3 linked regions of the Homo sapiens genome follow. The protein of the gene in region 2 interacts with the protein of the main gene of each other region in a pairwise test. Each region holds a gene or a part of one and is shown on either strand. Other genes may lie near its edges.

Region 1 (6,489 bases), on a different chromosome or scaffold from region 2:
GTCTTAGCACTTTGGGAGGCTGAGGCAGGAGGATCACTTGAGCCCAGGAGGTTGAGGCTGCAGTGAGCTATGATCATGCCACTGCACTCCAGCCTGGGCGACAGAGCAAGACCTTGTGTCCAACAACAGCAACAACAAATTTGAATGAATCACCACCCTTTGAACACCAGAATCTGCACGGCCATCCTCTTTGGGAAACCCTAGGGTTTCCGAGCCACACTGGGTCCATAGTCCCATCAAGTCCACTAACTGGAGTGAACACTGCAGGTGTGCGCCTTCTCTGAATTAACTTAGGCTGGCATCAGAATAACTGCAGGAGGGAGAACGGCCATCTTCCCCATTTCACAGACAGAAAACAAGGCCAGAGAGATCAAGTAACCTGCCCCAAGTTCCTTAGGAAAGTGGGAAGTGGGATTCAAACCCACGTTTACCCTGGTTGCAACCATACCCTTGGGTTGTGTTGGGCAGCCGCTGTGTCCTAATGATCTGGGGCCCAGCCTCTTCCTCATGGGCGTCACCCGCCTGGCCCCGGGTTCCCTGGAGACTCTCAGGGCTCTGGGCTCCTCTTCAGTGAAATGCAGCTGTACTGATAGTATCTCCAGCTCAGGCTGCTAGAGGGCTCAGGGCACTTGTGTATCAGGCCTTTGGCATGGCACTAGCCACTCAGGAAGCTTTATAAACCAGCTTTGGGGCCGGAGCAGTGGCTCATGCCTGTAATCCCAGCACTTTGGGAGGCTGAGGAGGGAGGATCACTTGAGCCCAGGAGCTGAAGACCAGCCTGGGCAACATAGCCATACCCCAGTCTCTACAAAAAATTTAAAAATTAGCTGGGCGTGGTGGCAAATGCCTGTAGTCCCAGCTACTCAGAAGACCGAGGTAAGAGCATCACTTGAGCCCAGGAGGTTGAGGCTGCAGTGAGCCATGATTACGCCACTGCTCTCCAGCCTGGGTGATGGAGCAGGAACCTCTTTCAAAAAAAAAGTGTCTTGGGTTTTGTATATGAATGTCAACCACAGAAACCTGCGGATCTAAGTAAAACTCCCACACAGGGTGTGGCTGGGCATGGTGGCTCACATCTGTACTCCCAGCACTTTGGGAGGCTTGGCAGGAGGATCACTCGATCCCAGGAGTTCAAGACCAGCCTGGACAACATAGTGAGACCCCATCCCTATTTAAAACACACACACACCTCCCACGTGCCATGCCCTCCCACCCTGTTGCTCCCATTCTCAGTAGTGATCAGTGTTCACAGTTTCATGGTGTCCTGGTATGTTTCCTCATATACCGATAGGATCGGAGACATATACGGTTCTTCTGCTATGAAATTTAAAATGCATATATCCTTTGACCCTGCAAGTTTACTTTTAGGAACTTCTCTAAGAGAGACAATTGCCCACGTGCAAAGTGAGCTTATACATGCTTATTGTTTTCCATGATGTTTTATAGCAGCCAAAGATGGGACATAATTATCCATTTTTAATAGACTCTTATAAAATAAAAATATTTTATTATTTAAGAAAATAATAAATCTGTCGGCCCAGCTACTCGGGAAGCTGAGGCAGGAAGATCACTTGAGCCCAGGAGATCGAGGCTGCGGTGAGCAAAGATCGCTCCACTGCATTCCAGCCTGAGTGATAGGAGTGAGACCCTATCTAAAAAAAAAAAAAGTTGTGACGGCCAGGTGTGGTGGCTCATGCCTGTAATCCCAGCACTTTGGGAGGCTGAGGCGGGCACATCACGAGGTCAAGAGACTGAGACCATCCTGGCCAACATGCTGAAACCCCCCTCTACTAAAAATACAAAAATTAGCTGGGCGTGGTGGCACGCGTCTGTAGTCCCAGCTACTCTGGAGGCTGAGGCAGGAGAATCACTTGAACCTAGGAGGTGGAGTTTGCAATGAGCGGAGATCATGCCACTGTACTCCAGCCTGGTGACAGAGGGAGACTCTGTCTCAAAAAAAAAGAAAAAAAAAAGTAACTGAAAAACTTCTGTATCCAGTAGGAGGTTCCAGAAAGGACAATGTATAAAATTCATGAACAGAAACTAGTAGTGTTTGAACAGAAGCCAGGTGGAAGATGTAACAGGATTAGCCGGGCGCAGTGGCTCACTCACGCCTGTAATCCCAGCACTTTGGGAGGCCAAGGCGGGTGGATCACCTGAGGTCAGGAGTTAAAGACCAGCCTGGCCAATATGGTGAAACCCCATCTCTGCTAAAAATACAAAAATTAGCCGGGGGTTGGGGGGCACGCCTGTAGTCCCAGCTACTTGGGAGGTTGAGGCACAAGAATTGCTTGGACCCAGGAGACGCAGGTTGCAGTGAGCCAAGATTGCACTGCAGCCTGGGTGACAGAGTGAGACTCTGTCACAAAAAAATAAAGATATAACAGGATTGGCTGGGCGCGGTGGCTCACGCCTGTAATCCCAGCACTTTGGGAGGCTGAGGCAGGCGGATCATAAGGTCAGGAGATCGAGACCATCCTGGCTAACAGGGTGAAACCCTGTCTCTACTAAAAATACAAAAAATAAGCTGGGCGTGGTGGCAGGCGCCTGTAGTCCCAGCTACTTGGGAGACTGAGGCAGGAGAATGGCATAAACCCGGGAGGCGGAGGTTGCAGTGAGCTGAGATTGCACCACTGCACTCCAACCTGGGCGACAGTGAGACTGTCTCAAAAAAAAAAAAGCAAAAACAAAAAAGATATAACAGGATTATTCTGCCAAGGTTAAGGAAATAAATAAATAAGCTAAAACAGGAGAAAAGACATCAATGGAAGAGGCAAGATACTAGAAATAAGTTGAATAAGAATCTCATAACCAGCCTGGGCCACATGGTGGAACCCTATCTCTAAAAAAATTACAAAACTTAGCCAAGCATGGTGTCAACGTGCCTGTCGTCCTAGCTACTTGGGAGGCTGAGGCAGGATAATTACTTGAACCCGGGAGGCGGAGGTTGCAGTGAGCTGAAATTGAGCCACTGTACTCCAGCCTGGGTGACAGAGCAAGACTCTTTTTCAAAAAAGTCTGGGGGTGGCCCCGCCCTGTGAGAGATGTTTTTCCAGCAGTCACTGTGGGTTCTGGGTTGGGGTGATACACAAGCCTGACCCTCCCCAACCCCTGCCCGCAGACGAAGGCCTTCATCCACCACGAGCTGCTGGCCTACCTATACTCCTCGGCAGACCAGAGCAGCCTCATGGAGGAGTCGGCTGACCAGGCACAGCGGCGGGACGACATGCTGCGCATGTACCATGCCCTCAAGGAGGCGCTCAACATCATCGGTGACATCAGCACCAGCACTGTGTCCACGCCTGTACCCCCGCCTGTCGATGACACCTGGCTCCAGAGCGCCAGCAGCCACAGGTCCGGAAGCCTGGTTCCCCTACCCTCAAGCATTCGGCCTGCAGGTTCCTGCCCTCCCTGTGTGTCCTGCAGGGTCCTGGCAGGAAACAGGACACAGCCCAAGGGTGGCACCCAGGGCTGGGCACTGTGGGAGCTGCTGCCCTGCTGAGGCCGGAGGAGGGAGAGAAGGGGTATGGGGGCGAGCCAGCCCTACAGCTCTAGGGCAGGACCCTGTGAATAAATACCCCGCCTGCCCTCTGCTGGTGCCTTCCATTGGCACAGCCCAAATGGAAGCTGGGGTAAGAGGCTGGAGGGGCAGCAGCCACAGGAGAGAGATGAGCCTCCTGGAGCACAGAGAAGGGCAGATGGGAGGCTCTGGAGGGGCAAACGCAAGGCGTGGCCAGAGCTGCTGCCGCCCCTGAGTTGTCCATTGAGGCCGTCGGGCAGGGAACCTCAGAGGGGGCTGCCTTGCAGAGCCCTGGGGGAGCCATGGAGTTCCTTAAGGGGAGGATATCGCACCCAGGCCTGCAGGTGGCAGGGACTGAGGCCCAGGAGGGAATCTGGATGTCTGGACAGGGCTTGCAGGTTCCACGGCCCCTAGAGATATTAGGGCTTGATCTGGAGGACTCTGGAAGTGTCTTTGGCTGTGAGGGTGGATCCCAGGCCCAAGGCCTGAGGGGGCCCTGTGAGTGGGAAGTGCCTGAGGGGGCCGAGGGCAAGGGAAGGTGGGACTGGCGCTCAGGTTGGGGTGGGAGGATCCCACTGCGCCTGCGCTGTCCCCATAGCCAGCCCCCACCTCAGGTTCTGGCAGCCACAGTGGCATGGCGGGGGCTCCTACTCCATCTGTATCTGTAGCTCACACCCTCTCCTTCCTCACAGCCCCACTCCACAGCGCCGACCGGTGTCCAGCATACACCCCCCTGGCCGGCCCCCAGCAGTGAGGGGCCCCACTCCAGGGCCCCCCCTGATTCCTGTTCCCGTGGGGGCAGCAGCCTCCTTCTCGGCGCCCCCAATCCCATCCCGGCCTGGACCCCAGAGCGTGTTTGCCAACAGTGACCTCTTCCCAGCCCCGCCTCAGATCCCATCTCGGCCAGTTCGGATCCCCCCAGGGATTCCCCCAGGAGTGCCCAGGTAAGGCCAACCCCCTGCCCTCCACCCCAACTGCCTGCACCCTGGGGTCTCTCCTCCTGTCTCACTTCCTCCCAGTGAGCTCTCACTACGTGCCCAGCTGCTGGAGTGGAGGAATCGTCCTCATCCCTATTTGGCTTGCGAGGAAACAGGCCCAGAGAGGCCAAGAGGCTTGTTCAGTGTCACAGAGTAGCGGAGCCCTGGTGACTCCGGGGCTCCCAGCTTGCCCTCTGCCTACTGGGGTGTGCCACCAGGCAGCTGGGGAACCCTCACACTGGGCACCTCCTCCCACTGTTTACCTTCTTCTCCTTCCTGCTCCTGCCTGCCTCAACCTACCGTGGGCCAGGCTTTATTCTCCCCACTTCTCCGGTGGGGAAGCTGAGGCCCAGGGAGGGCAGGGGGCTCACTGAGGGTCAAACAGCAGGCGAGTTGATGCCTAGGTTTGGCACTCCTGCCCGACACCCTGGTGGCTTGCGGAGGTCAGCCTGGGAACACCCTGGGGTGGTGTGTGGGTGGGGGCTGGGTCCTCAACCCAGGCCTGCCTCTTGCTCCCGGCCTCACTGCCGTCTCCCCCTCCCCACCTGTCTTTATTCTCTTTGCAGCAGAAGACCCCCTGCTGCGCCCAGCCGGCCCACCATTATCCGCCCAGCCGAGCCATCCCTGCTCGACTAGGCCTCGAGGGGGGCGTGCTCTCGGGGGGGCCTCACGCACCCGCGGCGCAGGAGCTTCAGTGGTCTGGGGCCCTCCGCCGCCCCTATGCTGGGACCAGGCTCCCAGTGGGCAGCCCTGGCCTCTTCCTTAACGCTGGCCCCGGTCCAGGGCCGGCCCCTGTGCCTGGCTGGACACCGCACTGCGCAAAGGGGCCCTGGAGCTCCAGGCAGGGGGCGCTGGGGTGTTGCACTTTGGGGGATGGAGTCTCAGGGTGGCAGAGGGGGGACCAGAACCCTTGACACCATCCTGAATGAGGGGTCCAGCCTGGGGGGGACTCTACCAAGGTCTTCTTGGGCTGGGAAAGCCCATGTAGGGCAGGCCTTCTATAAGTGCGGGCACCAAGGGCGCCTACATCCCCAGGCCTTGCTGGGGTGCAGGGGTATATCAACTTCCCATTAGCAGGAGCTCCCCAGCGGCAAGCCTGGCCCAGTGGGCTCGGTAGTGCCCAGCTGGCAGGCCTGAGGTGTACATAGTCCTTCCCGGCCATATTAACCACACAGCCTGAGCCTGGCCCAGCCTCGGCTGCCAGAGGTGCCTTTGCTAGGCCCGGAGCCGTTGGCCCGGGCCGGCCTTGCCCTATTCCTCTCCTCCTCCTCCTCCTGGGTCCCCCAGGGTGGCTGGGCTTGGGCTATGTGGGTGGTGGTGGCGGGGGGTCTTGGGGGCCTCTCAGCTCCCGCCCATGCCTCCCTGATGGGTGGGCCCAGGGCGGCCTCTCTCTGAGGAGACCTCACCCACTCCTCGCTCAGTTTGACCACTGTAAGTGCCTGCACTCTGTATTCTATTAATAAACTAAAATAAAGGGAAGACGCTGCTGGTGGCTGCTGTGTGGGCCTCTTGTGTTAGTGTTCAGGCTGGGGACATGGGTGCCACCTCCATCAGGCCTCCCATAAGGATGCCCAAGTCCCTGCACTCATAAGTGCCTCCCATCTCCCTGAGGGCTCTGCTTTCGGGGGTGTCACCTTTCAGAGGAAGCCACTCGATACAGGGGAGAGCTTTTACTTTCCTTAGCATGTGAGGAGTGGGAGCAGATATTCTCTGACCCCCTGCACACCCCCACGTGCACAGGCCTGGCTGCTGCCTGGTGAAGCGGGGACCCCAGCGCTCCACCCCCTTCCTACCCTCAGGCCCTGCTTCTCTCACCTCGTGGGGAAGCCCAAGCCTCGTGGCCCAACTGGGGCTCAGTTAAACTTTGCTTTCTGATTTTTCTCTTGTGCCAGGCGACCACCTCCATCGGCTCCCGCACGACCTTTCTTCTGAGCTTCGTGGGAGGCCCCTCCCACCTGTCTGGCTGCCCCCTCGGGGGCCGGTCTGTCCTGG
Region 2 (6,085 bases):
AGGTGTGGTGGTGGGCACCTGTAATCCTAGCTACTCAGGAGGCTGAGGCAGGAGAATCACTTGAACCTGGGAGGCAGAGGTTGCAGTGACCTGAGATTGCGCCACGGCACTCCAGCCTGGGTGACAGAGCAAGACTCCATCTCAAAACAAAAAAAGCCCCAGAACCAGACATCCTTAAGCACTTGATTCTGTTCATTTCTGAGCTCAGCCTTGAGCTTAGAACCAAGTGAAAACTAATTACACATTTTCGGAGTTCACATTAAACTTCTTCTTTTTAAAATTATTATTTTTGAGACAGAATCTTGCTCTGTCACCCAGGCTGGAGGGCAGTGGCACGATCTCAGCTCACTGCAGCCTCCACCTCTGGGGTTCAAGCAATTCTCAGTCTCCTGAGTAGCTGGGACTACAAGCATGTGCCACCATGACCAGCAATTTTTTGTATTTTTAGTAGAGATGGGTTTTTGCCATGTTGGCCAGGCTGATCTCAAACTCCTGGCCTCAAGTGATCTGCCCGCCTTGGCCTCCCAAAGTGCTGGGATTACAGGTGTGAGCCACTGTGCCATGCCTGAACTTCTCCTTTGAAGGAAGATCTGAGTGTAAAAGCAGGGAATGCCTTTATTTAAAAAAATGAAAAACAGAAACTAAAACAAAATAACAATCACCTCTGTTGCCTCCATTTGAGAGAATACTTCCAGGGGCTCTGCATGTCTGGTCCCCAACCTGGTCGGGGAGTTCACTTTCAGAGGCTCAGGGATGGGCCTTCCCCAGCCCCACCAGCAAATCATCTCTCCCGGCTTCCAGGAGGGTACTTACTCTCCAACTAGTGGGCTTTATGGGCCAGGAAGGATGACAGGAAGGGGTGTGTGGGGTACTACGTCCCTCCACACTGAGAATCCGAAAGCCAAGATGCCCAAGATTCTATCGTTATCTGCTTGTCTTGTAGAAGCCCCTCTGTGAGACTGAGGGGCAAAGGAGAGAGGGCAGGGGCGTGTCTCAACCCTTCTGGCCACTTCTAGGTTGTGCAGACTGCCACTCTTGTTACTACGATGGACTGTCAGATCAGCAGGTGGCCCAGGAGGGCTTGCTTGATGCGGGCTGCTTTTTCCTTTTGCCTCCGTGCCATGCCTGTGAGGTAGTTGGTACTTACTGGAATCCCCACTGCATGCATGAAGAAACAGGCACAGAGAAGCCAAATGACTTTCCCAAGGTCACACAGCCTGAAGGGACAGCCGGCTGTCCCAGCTGTTTCCCTTCTAACACCCTTGGGCCTGCCTCCAGCTAGATGCTGCAAATCAGTCCTCTCTTGAGAGTCAAAGCAAAGGAGATCTGAGCTGGTCGTCACAGGTAGTGTGACACAGAGTTGGGGATAGAGCCGCACCTTGCATTTCCAGGTGCCATCTTCCCCACAGTCCCCAGTGGGCACTTGCGTTCATGATTCAATTACTCAGGCTCTGTCTCTCTGTTCCTGCCCCTTGCTCTGTGACCTGGCCTCTCTGGACCCCAGTTCCGTCCGTGAGCGATGGGGGCGGGGTCGGCGGCCTGCCTAGGCTGGACAGTGCAGATTGCAGAAGTCCGCGGACGAGAAGAGCCGCAGCACGTTGACCAGAGGGAACATGAGCAGCGCTCCGAGCAGCGAGCCCAGCTGCACCGCCGCCCCGCACCACAAGAGGGCGCTGCGGCTGAGGTCGCGCAGGACCACGCCCAGCATCACCTTGACGTAACTGAGGCAGCCGCTGAAAAGCACCCACGAGGCCACCTGCGGGGCCGGGAGGGAAGAGGTGCAGAGTCACGGGGCTTGCGGGGCGAGCGCCGGAGCAAAGAACTCTCACAGGGCTCAGGGGAACCCACGGAATACTCTCTAGGTGCGAGGAGCGCCTTCTGGGAGTGAGCCTGCGGGGCCGACGGGTCCCATGAGTTGGCCGCCCGGGGGCGAAGGAGAATCCAGTGGCTTTTCTGGGTTCACGTGCCCATGATCAGGGCAAGGGCCCTTGAGAGAAGGCCCCTGCTGAGGTACACATGGTGGGAAGAGGCCTACCAGTCACCTCGATTCCCTAAGCCTCCACTCCCAAATGAGGAAGGGGCGCTTCCCCCACCTGGGGCTTCCCGGGAGGGTCCCACAGACCCCGCTCGCTGGAAAGGGCCGCGCCCAAGCTCTCCCAGGCCTTGGCTAGGGGTGAGGGGTACGCAGCGGGAGCAGCCCCACCGGCCGGATACTCACAATGAGGACTTCCCCACCCCAGTGGCCCTGCAAGAGGGGGCAGGGGCTCATCACCGCCATGGCCATGTTGTAGCCCCCAAAGCAGGTCCCAAGCACGGAGAGGACCCCCAGGAACAGCAGAGACCTAGAGGAAAGTAGGGGAGGTGAGTGGAGGTGAGAAGCCTGACCTCTGACCCCCCCGCCCCACTGGGCGGCATGTGGATGGCCAGTGTCTCCATAGTTAGTTTAGACCCATGTGGAAAATTCCAGGTTGCCTGGCTCAAGTGGGTCAGGGAGGCTCCTGAGCAGGCAGGGCTGGCCTGAGTCATCCCCAGCATTAACGGCAGGGCCTGGCACCCCGGCAAGAAAAACATAATGGACTCTGGCACCGGATGGTCCTGGTTCAAATCCCAGTTCTACTGTTTAAGCTGAGACTCGCCTCTGAGCCTCCAAATCGGAGTTTTGCAAGGCTGCATGACCTCCAGGAGCAGAGCATGCAGGCCTGGCGCCGCTGTGGGCCCACCTGGTGTTTACCTGCTGGCATTTCCTCCTGCAACACACCCTCAGCCTCAGCCAGGAAGCTGAGTTGAAGTGAAGATGGCTGGATCGGGCATTGGCACAGTAGGGTTTGCTGTGCCTCCTCAGGAGACCCCTCCCCTTCTGGCCTCAGCTACCTGCCTCTGCAATGTGGAGTGTGCTGATCTCCAGGGGTCCTGGCAGCTGGCTTGTTGCTGCTAGGAGCATCTCTCTACAGGTGGCCTTCCATGCAAACCTACATCTGGGACCACTGTCCTTCCTCACAGGTCCTTGTCCCTGGGGTCCCAATCTCTAGAACCCCAAGACTGGTCCACGCCCTGGGTAAGAACAGACAGAGGTCTGCCTATACCCTTAAAGACTCTTTCTGCTCCAAGATTCTTGGATTCCATGACTCAGATTCTGTAATTCTAACATTTGGGGTTTCTTGGATTTGCAGGTCTGAGCCTTTGGTCCTGCTTCCCTCAAATCCTCCATCCTCTTTCCAGTTTCTAGGTCCCAAGGTAGAAAATCCAGCTTCCTGGCAAGCTTTCTGTCAAGCTCTTCTGTCCTCACTGTCCTTCTTCTGGGCTGGGAGAGTGGGTGTAAGCAGGCCAGTGAGGACAGGCAGGCCAGCGTGGATACGAGGCTGTAGGACCCACCTCAAATGTCAAGATCCCAAGGTGGTAGTTCTCCTACAGGGGTCTGAAGCCCCTGCCTCAGAACCGTCTGGTTTCCTTACTAAAAATTGAAATCCCAGGTCCCAGTCTAGGCTGGTTCAATCTGCATTTTATCAACTTGCCCAGCCATTCTTCTAGAACTGTGGCTCTAAGGGAACCAGCAGGAGGTTAGAGGCAGGAAGGCAGGGCCGAAATCCTGGGAATTAGACCAGGTCAAGCTCTTTCTCCAAGCCTCAGGGTTTCCCCTTATAAACGGGAACCTCAGTGGCTATCTGCTCCTCCTCATGGACTGATGACAATGATGGTCAACGCTTAGGCTGGACCTGCCACGTGCCAGGCACCGCTCCAAGAGCTTTATAGAATCAGCTCATATCATGCTTCCAGCAGTCCTAGGAGGTGGAATGTTACACTCCCATTTTCCGATAAATATCCCTGAGGCACAGAGAACTGAAGTGACTTGTCTTACACACAGCTGACAGGTGGCAGAGCTGGGATTTGGACCAGGGTGCTCCCCAAACATGTTCTTAACCACTACATGTACAGCCCAGTAGGTGCGTTTGGAATTCTGGGTTCTGAAATGAAGTGTTCCCCCACTAGGATTCCCTAGGACCAGATGAGGGCACACCTGTTAGGCAGGAACATGGAGACCAACGAGGCAAGAGGGTTGGCCACAATGCTGAGGGTGGCAGCCAGGTGGTAGGCAACTGGCCCATAGGACAGGCAGGAGTAGGTCTGCACAGAGGGCAGCATGCCGTTGGTGAGCGCGTTGACGAAGGCCACCAGGGTATAGATGAAGGCCAGGTGCGCCGGGCAGCAGGGGGCTGCTTTCTCCTCTAGATACCCCTGGCCCTGGCTGCTGTCCACCGTGCCTGCAGGGCCCAAGTCATTCTCTTCCCGCGGCCGGATGGAGTGGAGGGTGACCTGGTCATTGAGGAGGTCTTCCACGGAAGCCTCCCAGCACCTGGGTTGACGCTGGAGGACAAAGAACGCCACGAGGCAGCAGGCCATCATGATGGATAGGAGGAGGAAGAAGACCAGGGGTGAGAAGTGGGCGGGAAGGTAGCGGCTCTCCAGGTGGGACAAGGGTGCTTCCATTCCGGGGAGGGCGGACACCAAAGCTCTGGGAACTCCCTGCAAAGGACAAGACAGATCCCTGGTCAGGGGAGGGGATCAGGCTGCAGAACAACAATCATGACAGTGATAACAGAATACAGATCACCTGTTATTATTAATGGATAATGAATAAATAAACATAACTAACAAGGTGGCAATAATGACTGCTCATACTGACTGCCCACTGAGCACGGGCACTGTGCATGGATAAGCCCCTATGCCTCCTAACAGGGCTGCACAGTGGGCACCATCATCCCCCATTTTAGAGGGAACTGAGGTATCAGAATGCTTCGTCCCTTACCTGAGGGTCACAGGGAGAATGTGGCAAAGCCAGACTCCACCTGGTGCTTTCTGACTTGGAAGCTACACCTTTTATCACCCCACAGCAGTGGCAACCACAAACATGTTCAGAGGAGGAGCTAGCTGGAGACTGAGCAGTGGAGCCGCCCACCTAAGAGGAGAGCCCCCACCTAAGGGGAGAATCCCCCACCTAAGGGGAGAGCCCCCACCTAAGGGGAGAATCCCCCACCTAAGGGGAGAGCCCCCACCTAAGGAAGAACACTGCTCCACCCATCGTCTAGGAAATAAGGGCCTTCAGGACATGCCATCCCAAAATATGACTGTAGGAGGCCAGAATATGCCACCCCAAAATTGACCTATTGGCATATTTTTTATTTCTAGCTGGTTATTTTGAAAAATTGCAGGCTAAGGAGTAGCTCTGAAAAGTTGCCATTTTGTAAGATAAATTTACATCTAAAGGAAATTTTTATTAGTAAAGCTATCTTATCTGTACCAAGAAAAGGTATCTGTACCACGAAGGGGTATCTGAACCAGGAAGAGAAAGGTGATGGCCTTTATCACCCGAGGAACTTTTATCTGCATAACAGTGCAATGTTTATTCACCATAAGTTTCCTCCCTTCACTCTCCCATAATTTGTCTCCACCATCCTGCAGTAGCCTCAAGCCCCTATTCCCTTTTGTAGCTCAGGATGCTATAGAAGCTGAAATCATCTGGCCCTTTTTTGAGTCTCATATTTTTTGGGGACTCCCATGCGTATGTATGTAAGTAATTAAAATGAGTTTCCTGCTGTTGATCTGCCTTATGTCAGTTTAACTCATAGGCCGACCAAAGAACCTAGAAGGATGGAGGTGAGCAGTTTTTCCCTCCCCTACATTTGTGATAAAGCCAAGTGCTGAGATGGCTCCGGGTGATGCTGGGTACCTGTGCGATGTCAGTCTCCCTCGTGGGTACAGGGCTTGGTACGCTGTCTGATATCTCAGTGACATTGACGCAGGTAGTGAGACCGGAGCCCTGGGCAAGAGCCACCAGGGCGGGCAAGAGGCCGCTGAGTCCTTCACCCACAAAGAAGGTGGTGAGGTAGTAGGTGGGCAGCCGGCTCATGAACGGCAGGAAGGTCACTGAAGAGGTGCAGTCCACCAGGGCCAGGAAGAAGGTGAGGACCAAGAAGGCGATGCTGTGGTGGCCGTCCAGCACCCAGGAGGTCATATTCCAGAGGAAGGCAAAGATGATGCAGGTGACGGTTCCCACGCCCAGCAGGGTGAAGATGATGGGCACTTCGGA
Region 3 (7,964 bases), on a different chromosome or scaffold from region 2:
ACGCCCAGCTAATTTTGTTCATTCTTGTAGAGACAGGTCTCACCACGCCCGGCCCCATTCAAATATTTATTGAGTACTTACTCTGTGCCAGGCCCTCTCTCAGGCACTGCAGATATATCAGTGAGAAACTGTTTTTACATTCTAACTTAATAAAGGGTACTCAAAGTGACTACTCAGAAAGAGGAAACCAAGGTTCCAAGAGGAAATGGTTGCAAGGCCCTTCGTAGGCAGATATTGCTACCTACACAGCTTCTTTAGGGCCAAAGTTGGTTCTCTGGCTCTCCAAACCCAGGACCTAGCAAGGGTTAAAGGTATATTGCAGAGGGGAAGGCAGTGAACGGAAAAATGGCACAGTAAGCCCAAACATTCCCAGAATGGACTGTATAGGAGATTAACAATTGGGCCATATGGTTATAGGTGCGTACTCTTGAGGACGCCCAAAAAACTAAATTGTTGAATCTTCACATGCTATGTAGATACAAGTTGATGATAATGGTAAAGGTATTCCTGAAGTATCTGTAGGCCTATACACATGCTGATAATTAAGAGGGACTCTTTTTTCCTTTTCTTTTTTTTGAGACGGAGTCTCGCTCTGTTGCCCAGGCTGAAGTGCAGTGGCACGGTCTCGGCTCACTGCAACCTCTGCCTCTCGGGTTCAAGCAATTCTCCTGCCTCAGCCTCCAGAGTACCTGGGATTACAGGCGCCTGCCACCACACCTGGCTAATTTTTTGTATTTTTAGTAGAGACGGGGTTTCACCATGTTGGCCAGGCTGGTCTCAAACTACTGACCTCATGATCCGCCCGTCTGGGCCTCCCAAAGCACTGGTGTGAGCCACTGCACCCAGACTAAGAGGGATTTCTTTCGGGTAAGTAGATTTTCACTAGGCTAGCACTCAGCTTTTTTTCATCCCATGGGTCAGTACAAATGTGTCCCAACTAGGTAACAATATTGTTAAAAATCTTGTCTAATTCTCAGGAAGTAGTGTGGAACATGTTTAAGGCCTTCCATGTTGAAATGTGGTCCCACACCAAAGCCTTTGAAAATTAATAACAAAAATATGGCCGGGTGCGGTGGCTCACGCCTGTAATCCCAGCACTTTGGGAGGCCGAGGCGGGCGGACCACCTGTCAGGAGTTGGAGACCAGCCTGGCCAACATGGTGAAACCCTGTCTCTACTAAAAATACAAAAATTAGCTGGGCGTGGTGGCGGGCGCCTGTAATCTCAGCTACTGGGGAGACTGAGGCAGGAGAATCGCTTGAACGGGGAGGCGGAGGTTGCAGTGAGCCATGATGGCGCCATTGCACTCCAGCCTGGGTGACAAGAGCCAAACTCCATCTCAAAAAAAAAAAAAAAAAAGTACGTGTGTATTTTTCACGCACTCTACTCAGCCAAGCAACCAAATCTCTATTGTCTATGATTTACGAGTCATGTCAATCAAGTCAAAAAATTAGTGACAACTATACGACTGAGTCCTTCCTCCCCCACTGAACATCAGCCTATTTCAAAAGTTTCCGAGATGTTTTCTACAATGAAAAGCATTGTACTTAACAATTTGTTCCAGGCACAGTGGCTCACGCCTGTAATCACAGCACTTCGAGAGGCCGAGGTGGGAGAATCACCTGAGTCCAGGAGTTCGAGACCAGCCTGGGCAACACAGCGAGACCCCGTCTCTCCCAAAAACATTACCTGGCCCTGGCGATATGCACCTGTAGTCCCAGCTACTCTGGAGGCAGAGGCGGGAGGATCGCTTGTGCCTAGGAGATCAAGGCTGCAGTGAGCCATGATCTCTCCATTGCACACCTGCCTGGGTGACAGAATGAGACCCCATCTTTAAAATAAAAATTAAAAAAAATTTATGCTACAGATTTACATTTGGTAAATGTATTCTTTTGTCTTTGCTTTATTTGTTGTGTGTGTGTGAATTTTAAATGTCTGGGATAAATGATCATTTATAAGTATTTAATAAAACAAAAACCCTTTGCTCCTCCTATTAAATAACAGCCTTACCAGCAACTCTTTCCAAACACGAAACTATTATGAAACATGATACCATGTGCCAAAGCTGTCCTGGGGAAGGCTTCACTCACACACAAATGGCTGGATAATAGTATGAGAGAAACGAGGAGTTTCTTTACATATCACAAACAGTATCTTCAAGTGCATGGTCACGGAAGAGTTAAAGGGACAGCAGGCTAGGCAGACTACAACAAAATCATCCCAGTCCACTCCTAATACCTAAAAACAAAGCTGGCCGCCTGCTCCGGAAAGATGGGAGTACCAAAAGAAACCAAACCCAAACATCCCGTAATAAAAACTCTTGTGACGACTTCCCTGTTTAGGGGCACGCCGGGTTTCCTACTTCACTTCCTAAATGTCAGGCCCTACAGTGGGCGAGCCAAGGTCTCCTCCCTCGGGAGGCTCGCGGACCTAGTGCAGGGGAAAGACACGAACAAGACCCCAAAGATCTACGTGTAGGGAAGACTCCAATATAGAATTGAGCAGTCCGGAGGAGGAAAAGTTAATTCTGCCAGGATTAGGGTAGGAGGGGTTGAGGGAGGTGTCCCAGAGATGACTCTAGCTAGACCCTAGGGAGAGGGAAGGATTGGGGAGGGGTGAAGGAATCCTCCGAAAAGCGATGGAAAGTGACGGAGAAAGGCAGAAGCAAACCCACTGGGCGCCACCCCACTCCCGTGTCCCGAGACGCCCCCGGCCCCGCCCATACTCCCTCCCGGCTCCCAGGGCGGGGGCCGCGGGGGAAGTAGGGGCGTAGGTGATGCTCCCCTCCTCGAGCCGAGGAGGCGGGAGGCTGCGGCGTCGCCCCTCGCCGGGCGAGATCGGCATGGGGGCGACTCGGGCCCCACCCAGCCCTCCGAGAGGCGGTGATGCCGCGCTCCACGCCCGCCACCGCGCGGCAGACAGCTCCCCACCGAACGCGGACACTCACTTTCTCGTGGAAGATGGACTCCATGTTTATTTGTCTGGAGCCAACGGCCCCCACGCCGAACCACCCCCTCCAGCTCCGCCCCCTGCCCCTCTCCTCCGCCCACCCCGCCCCTCCCCGGCCCGCCCCGGTACCCCGCCCACGTGCCGCACGCAGACCAATCACCCGTGAGGATGCGAGTGTCGTGAAGCGAAGAGCGAGTGAACGCCGGGGACACGTGACCTTGGTAGCGCGTCCTCCTAGCTTCTGTTAGCGGGCCTTCTGGGGGATGCTACATCGCCACCTGCTGTCTGGAGGATCTTCTCCGCTTCCCACCCATTTCTATGGATTCTTAGGTTTCTGGGGGGAGGTCTGGACCGCTCACCTGGGTTCTATGTTCTTTTTGTTTTCCACTTTGACTTTCTACTGTGTTCATATAACTATTTACTTTCTTTCTCCTCCTCCTGCACTGAAAGTTTAGTAAGAAAAAAGCCATCATTACATTCTCCCAAAACCCAGCACTTGTATAAAAATGATAGCTAGGCCGGGCGAGGTGCTTCACGCTTGTAATCCCAGCACTTTGGGAGGCCGAGGCGGGCGGATCACCTGAGGTCGGGAGTTTGAGATCAGCCTGACCAACATGGAGAAACCCCGTCTCCACTAAAAATACAAAATTACCCGGGCGTGGTGGTGCATGCCTGTAATCCCAGGTACTCGGGAGGCTGAGGCAGGAGAATCGCTTGAACCCGGGAGGCCGAGGTTGTGGTGAGCCGAGATCGTGCCATTGCACGCCAGCCTGGGCAACAAAAGCGAAACCCCTCCCCCACCACCCCAAAAAAGAAAAAAAATGATAGTTAATATTTACATAAGGCTTTCTATGAGCTAGGCACTTTTCTAAATGCTTTGCATATATTATCAAATTTAATACAGCAAACTTTGATGTAGGTGTTGATGTTATTCATACACATGAGGAAACCGAGGCACGGAGAGGTTAAGAACAGCACAATGTCCAAGGTCAGATAGTAAGTTGTCTTGCCAGGATTCAAATCCAGGTGGCTTGTTACCAGTGTAGGTGTTCGGACCCTTTAGAGGGAACTTAGAAGTCCCATAAATTGTGTGGGAGACGGGGAGGTAGCAGCGGTTTGATGAAACTTAAATGGAAGGATAGGTGCAGATCTTGCACCTTGAAACCAGATTAAGGTGTACTTTTTTTTTTTTTTTTTTTGAGACGGCCCTCTCTCTGTCCCCCAGGCTGGAGTGCAGTGGCACAATCTCCCCGCTCACTGCAACTTCTGCTTCCTGGGTTCAAGTGATTCTCTTGCCTCAGCCTCCCAAACAGCTGGGATTACAGGCGTGCACCACGAAGTCCAACTATTTTTGTATTCTTAGTAGAGAAGAGGTTGTACCATGTTGGCCAGGCTGGTCTCGAACCCCCAGCCTCAGGTGATCCACCTGCCTTGGCCTCCCAAAGTCCTGGAATTACAGGCGTGAGCCACCGCACCTGGCCAAAGTGTACCTTTTAAAGGATGTGGGGAGCTATATAAATATTTTAAAAGAAGACATGTGGTCATGTTTGCCTTTTAGAAAGATCACTGGCTGCAGAAAAAAGCAGTTGCTGTTGAAGGAATCTTGGGAGAGACGATGGTGGTTTAAGAGAGTGTCTTAAAGATGGAAATAGCCCATTTTGAGAGATTCTTTGGACGTAAAGAGACTCAACAGAATGTGGTGATGATACCGAGTGGAGGAATACTAGCCTTTTTCGTCTTGAGTCGAATTACATAAAACGACATGGACAAACGTGGAGTGGTTTTAAGGAGCGGAGAGTTTAATAAGCAAGAAGGAAGGGAGAAGAAAGAAAGAAGCAGCTCCCCTGTACAGAGACAGAGGGATGGGTGCTCCAAAGCTGAGAGAGGAGACCCAGAGTGCGTGGGAGATACCAGCCAGTTATAGGAGGAGGATGCAGGAGGCGGTGTCTGATTTGCATAGGGCTCAGGGGACTGGTTTGACCACGCATGTCATTCATGTAGCCCCCTAATAAAACTGGCCATTCCACCCTAGCCTTTTAATATGCAAATGCAGGGCGCTATGATGTTCTACTCATGTGGGGATATGTGGGGGTGGCCATGTTGCCAGGCACTTGTGAGAACAAGGGCAAGAGGACGATGGTGGGAATCACCGTGTTGGTGGACCCAGTTTCTAACTGCCGGCATTTGCATATCAAACGTTGCCAGCTCGGGTCTAAAAGTCAGGGCTTTTATGCTAGACAGGAAACGTCTCAGGAGCTGCTTCAAAAGAGACAAAAACTTTTCAAGGACCCCTTTTCCTCTCTATCTGCCTAAAATAATTTCTTAATAACTCCTACCACAATGAGGGATTGGGGAAGGTAGGAGACAGAAATGTGAAGGTGACTTCTGGGTTTGTGACCTGGGCAGCCACTGTGGCAGGAGTGGTATTGAGAGCAGAAACATGGGAGGAGCAGCAAGGTTTTGGGAAGAGAATAAGATAGAGTTTACATTTTGGAGATACTGAATTTGAAATATCTATGGACATTTGAGTAATTATGTTGAGTAATGGTTGGATACCGAGTCTGAAGTTCAGGAGGCTGCTTTGAACTCAATGAGGAATTGTCATTAAAAAACAGATAGCTAAGGCCATTGTGGTGGTGCATGCCTGTAATCCCAGCACTTTGGGAGGCTGAGGCAGGCAGATCTCTTGAGGCCAGGAGTTCAAGACCAGGCTGGCCAACATGGTGAAACCTCATCTCTACAAAAATACAAAAATTAGCCGGGCGTGGTGGCTCATGCCTATAATCCCAGCTACTCAGGAGGCTGAGGCAGGAGAATCACTTGAACCGGGAGGTAGAGGTTGCAGTGAGCCAAGATCGTGCTATTGCACTCCAGCCTGGACAACAGAGTGAAACTGTGTCTCAAAAAAAAAAAAAAAAAAAAGTAACTGAAACCATAGGAGTGAATAAAATCATTTTAGGGAAAAGGAAGTGATTGAGAAGAGGGCTAGAGCTGAGCCGTGAGGATAGGAGAAGCAATAACCAAGGAGGAGGGAGGAGAAGCAAGAGAGTGTGACATTGTGGAAGGCCTGGGCAGGGGATGCTTCAAGGGGTAGTCAGTGTCAGTTGCTGCCAAGAAGTCAAGCAATATAAGGTCGTATAAGAGCCCACTAAATTTTGTTGCTATGGAGACCATTGGTGACTTTGGGGACTGCAGGTTCAGAGAAGTAGAGGGGGCAGTGAGAGGTAAGAGAATGGAGACTGCCAGAGAGGACCAGGTGCTGAAGGAGAGGATTCGGTACCATTTATCGAGCATCTCTGTGTGCACGGTTCACAGCCTTGTATGGGGGAAAGTCCATGTTCTTAAGGATTTGTGTGGCCTACCCAGGGAAATAAATTATAGTCTCATGAAGTGAAAAAAATTGCAAACCACCTTTTCTGTTTTTGTTTTGTTTTTTTAAATTGTAGTTGATGTCTTTCAAATGAATTAATGAAGTCGAAGGTCTTAGTCTTTTTGGGGCGCTTTAACAAGATATCTTAGAGTAATTTATAAACAGAAGTTTATTACAGATCTGTAATAAATTTACAGGCTAGGAAGTCCAAGATCAAGGCTCTAACGGATTTAGTGTCTGGTGAGGGCCCATTCCTCATAGATGGTGCATTTTTTTGTCCTCACATGGTGGAAGGGGAAAAGGGGCAAACAAGCTTCCTCTCTGCATAAGGGCACTAATCTCAGTCACAAGGCTTGGCCTTATGATCTAATCATCTCCCAAAGGCCCCATCTGTTAAACCAACACACTGGAGACTACATTTCAACAAATGAATTTTGGAAAGATACAAACATTCAGATCATAGCACCAAGTATCTGGGAATCATTTTTTATTCTCTTCCCACAACTTCTCCACGTCACCCCTTATTCCAATCAGTCCTCAAATGCTATAAATCCACTCCTAACTCTCTCTTGCCCTTGTCTTCATTGCTACTACTTAGTTCAAGCCCTCTTGGTATCTTGTGTACTCTAGTCCAAGGATCTTTGAATTGGTCTTCTGATTCCAGTCTCAATATGTCTAATTCATGGTGCTGTCAGTGATCTTCCAAAAATGCAAATCTCACAAGATTTTCTTTTGTTTAACAAGAATAACTGCATATCAGGCCCTGGGACTATAACCATGAAAAACACAAACAGTCCCACCTTCAGGGGACTTACATTGGCAGGGATTCTTAAATGATTACACAACTCTGACTTCAAAATCCTTCAGTGATGGCCGGGTGCAATGGCTCATGCCTGTAATCCCAGTACTTTGGGAGGCCGAGGCGGGTGGATCACCTGAGGTCAGGAGTTCAAGACCAGCCTATCCAACATGGTGAAACCCCATCTCTACTAAAAATACAAAAATTAGCCGGGTGTTGTGGTGGGCACCTGTAATCCCAGCTACTTGGGAAGCTGAGGCAGAATTGCTTGAACCTGGGCGGCAGAGGTTGCAGTGAGATGAGATCGCAACAGTGCACTCCAGCCTGGGCAACAGAGTGAGACTCTGCCTCAAAAAAAAAAAAAAAAAAAAAAAATCCTTCAGTGACTTCCTATTGCCATCCTATTGCTGGCCTGAAAAGCTCTGTGATCTGGACCAACCACCTGTCCTGTTCTGTTCTCCCCAAATTCTCTCTGCCCCAGTCACTCCAGACTCTAGTCATACTAGCTTCTTCCTTTTACTTCTGGAAAGTTCACTAAGGAAAAGTATTTTGTGCCACCGCTACACCTTGAGCATGCCTACATTACAGCACCATTACATCATACTGGAAGTATTACTTTATATACTACTGAACTATCAGCTTTTGAGGGGCAGAGGAATCTTACTCTTCTTTTTTTTTTTTTTTTGAGACAGAGTCTCACTCTCTCGCCCAGGCTGGAGTGCAGTGGCGTGATCTCAGCTCACTGCAACCTCCGCATCCAGGGTTCACGCCATTCTCCTGCCTCAGCCTCCCAAGTAGCTGGGACTACAGGCGCCCTCCACCATGCCCGGCTAATTTTTTTGTATTT

Evidence for each region.
Region 1: the proteins of SLC52A3 (region 2) and DNM2 interact in binary tests that used the Homo sapiens proteins (3 or more experiments, as listed by UniProt).
Region 3: the proteins of SLC52A3 (region 2) and ATXN3 interact in binary tests that used the Homo sapiens proteins (3 or more experiments, as listed by UniProt).

Annotation. Positions count from the first base shown.
Region 1 is NC_000019.10:10,825,915-10,832,403, forward strand, and holds the end of DNM2 (dynamin-2), read left to right. Parts: intron 1-3,058; exon of another isoform or gene 3,059-3,121; coding exon 3,122-3,354; intron 3,355-4,212; coding exon 4,213-4,464; intron 4,465-5,063; coding exon 5,064-5,133; 3' UTR 5,134-5,989; downstream 5,990-6,489. UniProt on the Homo sapiens protein: Catalyzes the hydrolysis of GTP and utilizes this energy to mediate vesicle scission at plasma membrane during endocytosis and filament remodeling at many actin structures during organization of the actin cytoskeleton.
Region 2 is NC_000020.11:759,483-765,567, forward strand, and holds the end of SLC52A3 (solute carrier family 52, riboflavin transporter, member 3), read right to left. Parts: coding exon 5,726-6,085; intron 4,522-5,725; coding exon 4,016-4,521; intron 2,343-4,015; coding exon 2,219-2,342; intron 1,757-2,218; coding exon 1,544-1,756; 3' UTR 598-1,543; downstream 1-597. UniProt on the Homo sapiens protein: Plasma membrane transporter mediating the uptake by cells of the water soluble vitamin B2/riboflavin that plays a key role in biochemical oxidation-reduction reactions of the carbohydrate, lipid, and amino acid metabolism.
Region 3 is NC_000014.9:92,103,583-92,111,546, forward strand, and holds the start of ATXN3 (ataxin-3 reference isoform), read right to left. Parts: upstream 3,001-7,964; 5' UTR 2,971-3,000; coding exon 2,947-2,970; intron 1-2,946. UniProt on the Homo sapiens protein: Deubiquitinating enzyme involved in protein homeostasis maintenance, transcription, cytoskeleton regulation, myogenesis and degradation of misfolded chaperone substrates.